Regions from separate parts of the Homo sapiens genome. Here region 1 is linked to region 2. The links come from fine-mapping of genetic effects on gene expression. Tissue or cell type: pancreas. Region 2 holds a variant in brackets; the other region holds the start of a gene. All regions are shown on one strand. Distances are between the middles of the regions.

What was found. PIP is the estimated chance that this variant, and not a neighbour inherited with it, causes the effect.
Region 1: TEAD4 starts here. The variant in region 2 is fine-mapped to the expression of TEAD4 in pancreas (GTEx, PIP above 0.99).

The regions. Positions count from the first base shown.
Region 1 is chr12:2,958,152-2,960,902 of GRCh38, reverse strand. TEAD4 (TEA domain transcription factor 4) reads right to left here and starts at 1,506. Exons shown (of 13, transcript NM_003213.4): 1 at 1,422-1,506; 2 at 863-955. LOC124902859 (a long non-coding RNA gene) reads left to right here and starts at 855. Exons shown (of 2, transcript XR_007063159.1): 1 at 855-1,162; 2 at 2,678-2,751. RefSeq lists an enhancer at 601-1,336.
Region 2 is chr12:2,981,260-2,984,010 of GRCh38, reverse strand. The region is part of intron 2 of TEAD4 (TEA domain transcription factor 4); the gene reads right to left. Among named protein-coding and RNA genes, the nearest start is that of TEAD4, 23 kb to the right of the region's middle. RefSeq lists an enhancer at 2,362-2,751. The variant C/A (reference allele first, on the strand shown) is at 1,425.

The sequences.
Region 1 (2,751 bases), 23 kb after region 2:
ACACACTCCAAAACCACAGTCAAATTATCCCTGCACTCAGGCAACCAGAGACACTGACTCTTGCCCACGGCTATGTAGGGAGGAAGAACAGTCCTAGCCAGAACCAACATCCTCGAAGAGAAACACATACTCAAGAGACGTGGCATCACACACCTACTCAGAGATACTCACTTTCAGACAGCCCCTTCTCACGCAGACATATACACACACTCTGTCACTCACGTTCAACACAAACAAATACGCCCACTGGAAGCCAAGGTGAGCCACACGTGAACAGACATCACCCACACAGAGACTCAAAGCGAGGGGGACTCGCAGTCAGGTGTCACACAGACTCAGCACAGACGCAGTCAGTCCGCGGGGCCTCAAGTGCCTCAGCACAACGGGGGAAATGTTCACTTTGGGGTTTGAAAGTTCTGCTCCCTGGATCGATCCACTAGTCCCCATCAGGAAACACAGCAGCTTCCCAAGCCCTGAGGTGTAGGACCTTTTGCAGGGGTCCCCCGACTTTCGCATCGCCTTTGCACTTAAAACAGGCAGTCCGCTTACCTCCAGGTCTCTCCCTTCCAGGCTCGAAAAGGGCCCAGCAGAAAAGAGGCATGGGTGCTGGGTCTCTTCTGTTGCCGATGCTCTCGGTTCTGCCTCTCCGGTCCTTTCCACACCGGCCTCCCTTTCCCCCAAAGTCCCGAGTGTCCACCCCCCTTACCCGCCCCTGGAGCCGCTTCGCCTCCAGCAGCCTCAGTCGCGCCGCCTCCACGTGCCTCGCTCTTCCCAGTCTCGTCCCGGGAGGGAGCTCCGCACGCACCGCGCAGACTCCTGCCCTCCGGCAAAGTCCTACCAAGTCCCCGCGCCCCAGCCTTACCGGTCCCAGGGTGCGGGAAGGTGGGATGGGTGCGCTAAGCCAGTTCCAAGGAGTCCGCCCCGAGCGCCAACTCTTCCGGCCGCGGCGATCGTTCTGCGGGGACGACAGGGCGTCAGCGCGCAGAGCCGGGCTCCGGCCGGGGCCGACGGGCGGCGCAGTGAAGGCGGGGCCGCGGGGCCAAGCCCACCCCGCGCCGACCGGCCCCGGTGCGCCCAGCGGAGCGGAGCGGAGCGCGCGGAGGGAGGAGTTTTCCCAGAATGGGACTGACGGGAAAACACGGGGATCCCTATTCCTGGAGGAGTGAGTCAACCGGGAGCGAGGAGGGGAGCGCGGGGCGGACAGGAGGGAAGCGGGAGAGGGGCAGCGAGCAGCGCCGGAGCGCGGAGGGAAGCCAGAGGTCGGGACGGAGCGCGTCGGAGCGCAGAGGTCCAAGGCGGGAACGCGGGCGGCGGAAAGAAAAGAGCAGCCGAGCACGCGGCGCGAGCGGTCGGCTGCGGCGGCGTGGGGCGCGCGGCCCGTGAGGGCGCCGGCGGGTGCGGCGGGCGCGGGCGCCTCTCACCTGGCGGGACGCGGCGGCGCCGGAGCTGCGGCCCTCCCGCCCCCTGGCCTCGAGTGTGCGAGGAGGACGCTGGAATGCGCGGAATGAGGGCTGGAATGAGATGCGCGCCGCGGCGGGAGGGAGGGAGCCGGAGGGAGTGGCGGCGGGGCCACCGGCACCTCGGGGAGGAGACTGCGCCGCGCGCGGGCGGGCGAGGGGCCGGGCCGCCGGGGCGGGGCGGGGCCGGGCCGGGCCGGGGCGGGCGGCGGGGGAGGGGGCCGAGGGACGGCGGGGACCCCTCCACCCGGGCCTCGGCTGCGGCCCCCACGCCCACTAGCCCTTCGATCTCTCCGCTCCGACTGTTTGGCTGCTCGTTGCGCGCCCCGCGCCCTCCCCTCCTGGCGGGGTCCCGACTCCCTTTCCCAGGAGCCGAGAGCCTTCCTCTTCGCCGGGGTGGGGCTGTCCCGGGGGCGGGGGGGTGGACGGGGCCCAGACTCCCGCCCCGCCACCCGGCGTCCCTCCGCACGAGTCCCTGGGAGGCCGGGGAAGGGGCGGGCTCCCGGCGCGCAGGAAGGGCTGCTCCCTTCCTGCGGCTCCCACCAAAGGACACTTGCTCCGGGGAACCAGGAAGCAGGAACTCGCGGGCTCCATTCCCAGATCCGCTGCCAGTGCCCCCTCGCTTGCCCTCCCCGGCTTTAGCTCTTTCCGTTTTTCTCTCCTGCCCCTTGGGCATCTGTAAAACCGCCACTACGAGTAAACCACATGGGAGAAAGGGCACTCGGTTTGAAGTCCATGTGGCATGCCATGGGACGCCTTCTGGGCTCAGTGACTCAATGAATATTCATCTAAGATGTGTGATGAGTCCAGATACTGTGAAGATCAGGATCAGCCGTCAGCACCTGCCCTCAAAGAGCTCAGAGTTTAGCTGGGGAGGCCTCGGTGTATACTGCCATCGGTGAGAGTCTGGACTTCAGACACACATGCCCAGGAGTCTCTTATTGGGGCAGGAGGTGCTGGAAACACGCTGGGCTCCTTGTTTGGAGACGCTTAGGACAAACGGGCTTAAAGCAGTGTGCTGGCAGGTAGCGCCATCATCTACCTGGCCAGGAGACTGAAACCAAAGGACTTTTGGCTTTTTCCAAAAATCAAATCCAACCTTTTCTGGGGCATTATCACTTAGCCTTGTGTTGGGTGGTTGTCTAGATCTTATCTCCCTTGCCAAACAGAAACTTCCTTGAAGACAGAGTAATGTCTGATTTATCTTATCTTTCACACAGATCCAGCCTGGTGCCTGGGATAGGGAAGTGCATGATAAATGCTGCATAAATGAAAAACAATTGCTACCGTGGAA
Region 2 (2,751 bases):
CAGCCTTAAGGTCCAGCCATATGTCACTCCCTCTGGGAAGATGACTCCAACCTTAGCAGATTCCTGCATTTCCATATCCAGCCCCCATCTCCCAGTAAGGACTGGTCTCCACCACACTTTAGACACCATGGGGACAGGGACAGCTGTCTTCCTCTGTAAGTCCTCAGCACGCTGCACAGAGCTGATGAACACAGAATGAACAAACGAAGGGATATTTGTTAAGTGTTATTGTGGAATAATGATTTCTCTGTGGGGAGAACAGATTGCTCTGTGCTTAGTTTTGGGAAACAAAAGAAACCTCAGGAAATGTCTGGATTTTGGCATACCAGAAAAAGAGCTTGAATTGTGCATAAATCCCTTTGGGGCTTATTTTGGAGGCTTGTAGAATGGAAGTGTGATGTATGGGAAGCAAGAGCCTGGCTTTGGTTCCAGTTCTACCACCAACTACACAACCACAGACAAACCACCTCTCATTTTTCTGGGCCTCATTTTGCTTATCTGTAAAACAAGAAGGATGCCCTCCTTGGGATCCAGGGTCCTTTCTGTGCTAGCAGTATCTGTGGTTCACACTCCCTCCCCAGATCCCAGAAGTCTCCAGTGGCCTCTAGAAGTACCTTGCAGACTTTCATGTGTGGCTCTGCTCAGAAGGCTGGGGAACTGATCCATCCCGGAAGGCTGTCCCGCAGGAGAGATGACATAGTGAGATGTCATCTAGCGTAGGGCCTGACACAGTCAGTGCTCATAAGAGCTATTTCTTATTGTCTTCATTGTTACTAAGCCATAAACAATGCCAAGTAGAAAGTCTGAAGCCCTAATGCCTAATATTAATACTTAATTAATTAATCATTTTAATACCTGAGGCCTCTTAAGTCCTGGTTGTAGCCTAGATTTTCTTCTGGACCTGACACTAAGTACAGATGGATGCCCTGAGTCAGGTGGAGGGTGCGGTGGAGGCCAGGATGTCAGGAGACGGAAAGGAGGGCCGCCACCTCCCTTACCCCACCTGACCCCTTCTATGGTCTCTGGGCCCTGCTCCTCCTCAGAATTCCCCTTCCTTCACCCAAGCTGAGCTGGACTGGCCTGGTGAAGTGAGCACCATCAGTCCCTGCAGAAGTTGGGCCTAGGGCAGCCCAGCAGAACACACACCTGGGGAGAACCAAAGACTCCTAATGCCAGACCCTGCCCCACGAGTGGGGTTTTCTGAGGACCTGCACTCCATGTCCCTAGGATTGGGTCTGTCCCAGGAAAAGCAGGGCAGCAGGTCATCCAAGGCCCTGGGCCACAGGGTTTGTTACCGAAATGGGGTTGCTCCCAGCCCCACGTGTCCCTGGTGCTCCAGGTTCACAGCCGTCACTGGCGAGCTTCTCCTATCTGCCCGCGGCCCACATCCCGGGGCTGGCAGCTGCCTCCTGCCACCAGGCAAA[C/A]CTCCCACGCACCGCCCTGCCCTGCGGCTCATGGAATGGGGTAAGCCAGCACCAGCCTCCTCCTCCTTCCCCAAGTGCACCACAGTGACCCAGGAGGGCCTGCCAGGGGAGAGCTGGAGGCGGGGGACAGATGGCATCGTGGAGCTGGGCCATGCGCTGTGAACAGAAGAGTAAAAATAATCCCAGACTTGGTTCTCAGGGCCCAGCCCAGGAGCCTCTACTCTGCCTCAGCCCCAACCAAAAGCTACAGGGTAGCCCCCAGGGCAACCCCAGAAGACAGCAGGTTGCTCCATCCTAGGGCCCACAGGTGCTAATTACTCAGGAATTTCCAGAAGGATCAGGAATGTATGGGCTTTTATTAAGATCTCCCTAATACTCAGAACAGTAAGCTCCTCCAAAAACACTTTCAGGACAGGAAGGGAATCAGGATGCTAAGTTCCAAATGGAGAGTCCAAGCCTCAGGGAGGGCAAAGGACCTGCCCCGAGAAAAGGCAGAACCAGACCCCAGGCCAACCTGACGTCCTCTCCCTAGTCCGATCCATCTCACGCTCCCAGAGCCCTCCTTTCAGAGCCTTCTGCAGCCACTGTGATCCCTAAGCCCCTCACAACTCCTCCAGCCTCTAGAGCTGAGACAGAGAATTCAGAAGAAAACACCCTGATTTTGGGGGTCACTGGGCTTCATCTCTCAAAATAAGAAATGGAGAAGTCTCTTCATTTTAAGAGAAATCATCTCTTAAAATGAGACAGGTGAAAGAGGAGCAGCAGACCCCAGCCTTCTTCCAGGTGCATCCCCACTACCCTCCAGCACCCCTGGGCTTCTCACCATCTCCTGAGCCCCAAGTCTGTTCATACTGCTTCCCTGCTTAGGGTGGGCCTCAGTACTAATTTAATTCCTGCCAACAGTCCATCAACTAACTCTTTACTTGAAGTACCTGTTCTTGGACTAAACTCTAGAGAAAAGGGTCCAGACCTTCATGGGGCTCAGACTTCAGATGGGGATGGGAGACTAGACAGACATGCAAACAGGTAAGTGCTATGGAGTGTCAGAGGCTTGGGTGGAGGTAGGTACAGGGCACAAGCGGGTGCAGTGAGAGGCCCCCTCTACCCTGAAGGGTTCCCTGAGCCCCAGTTCCCAGAGGCCCCTGAGCTGCTACACTGATTGCCTGAATGTGCTGTGCTACTCTGGCCAGTCAGTTGTCTGCTGTCTTCCACGCTAACTAAGCTTGGAAACTCAGGAGCTGGAAGACAAAGGGAGGAGGCCAGGGGACCTGGGCGGGAAAGAAGAACCTATCCTGCAGGTAGTGCCGGGTGGGCTGTGCTGCCTCCT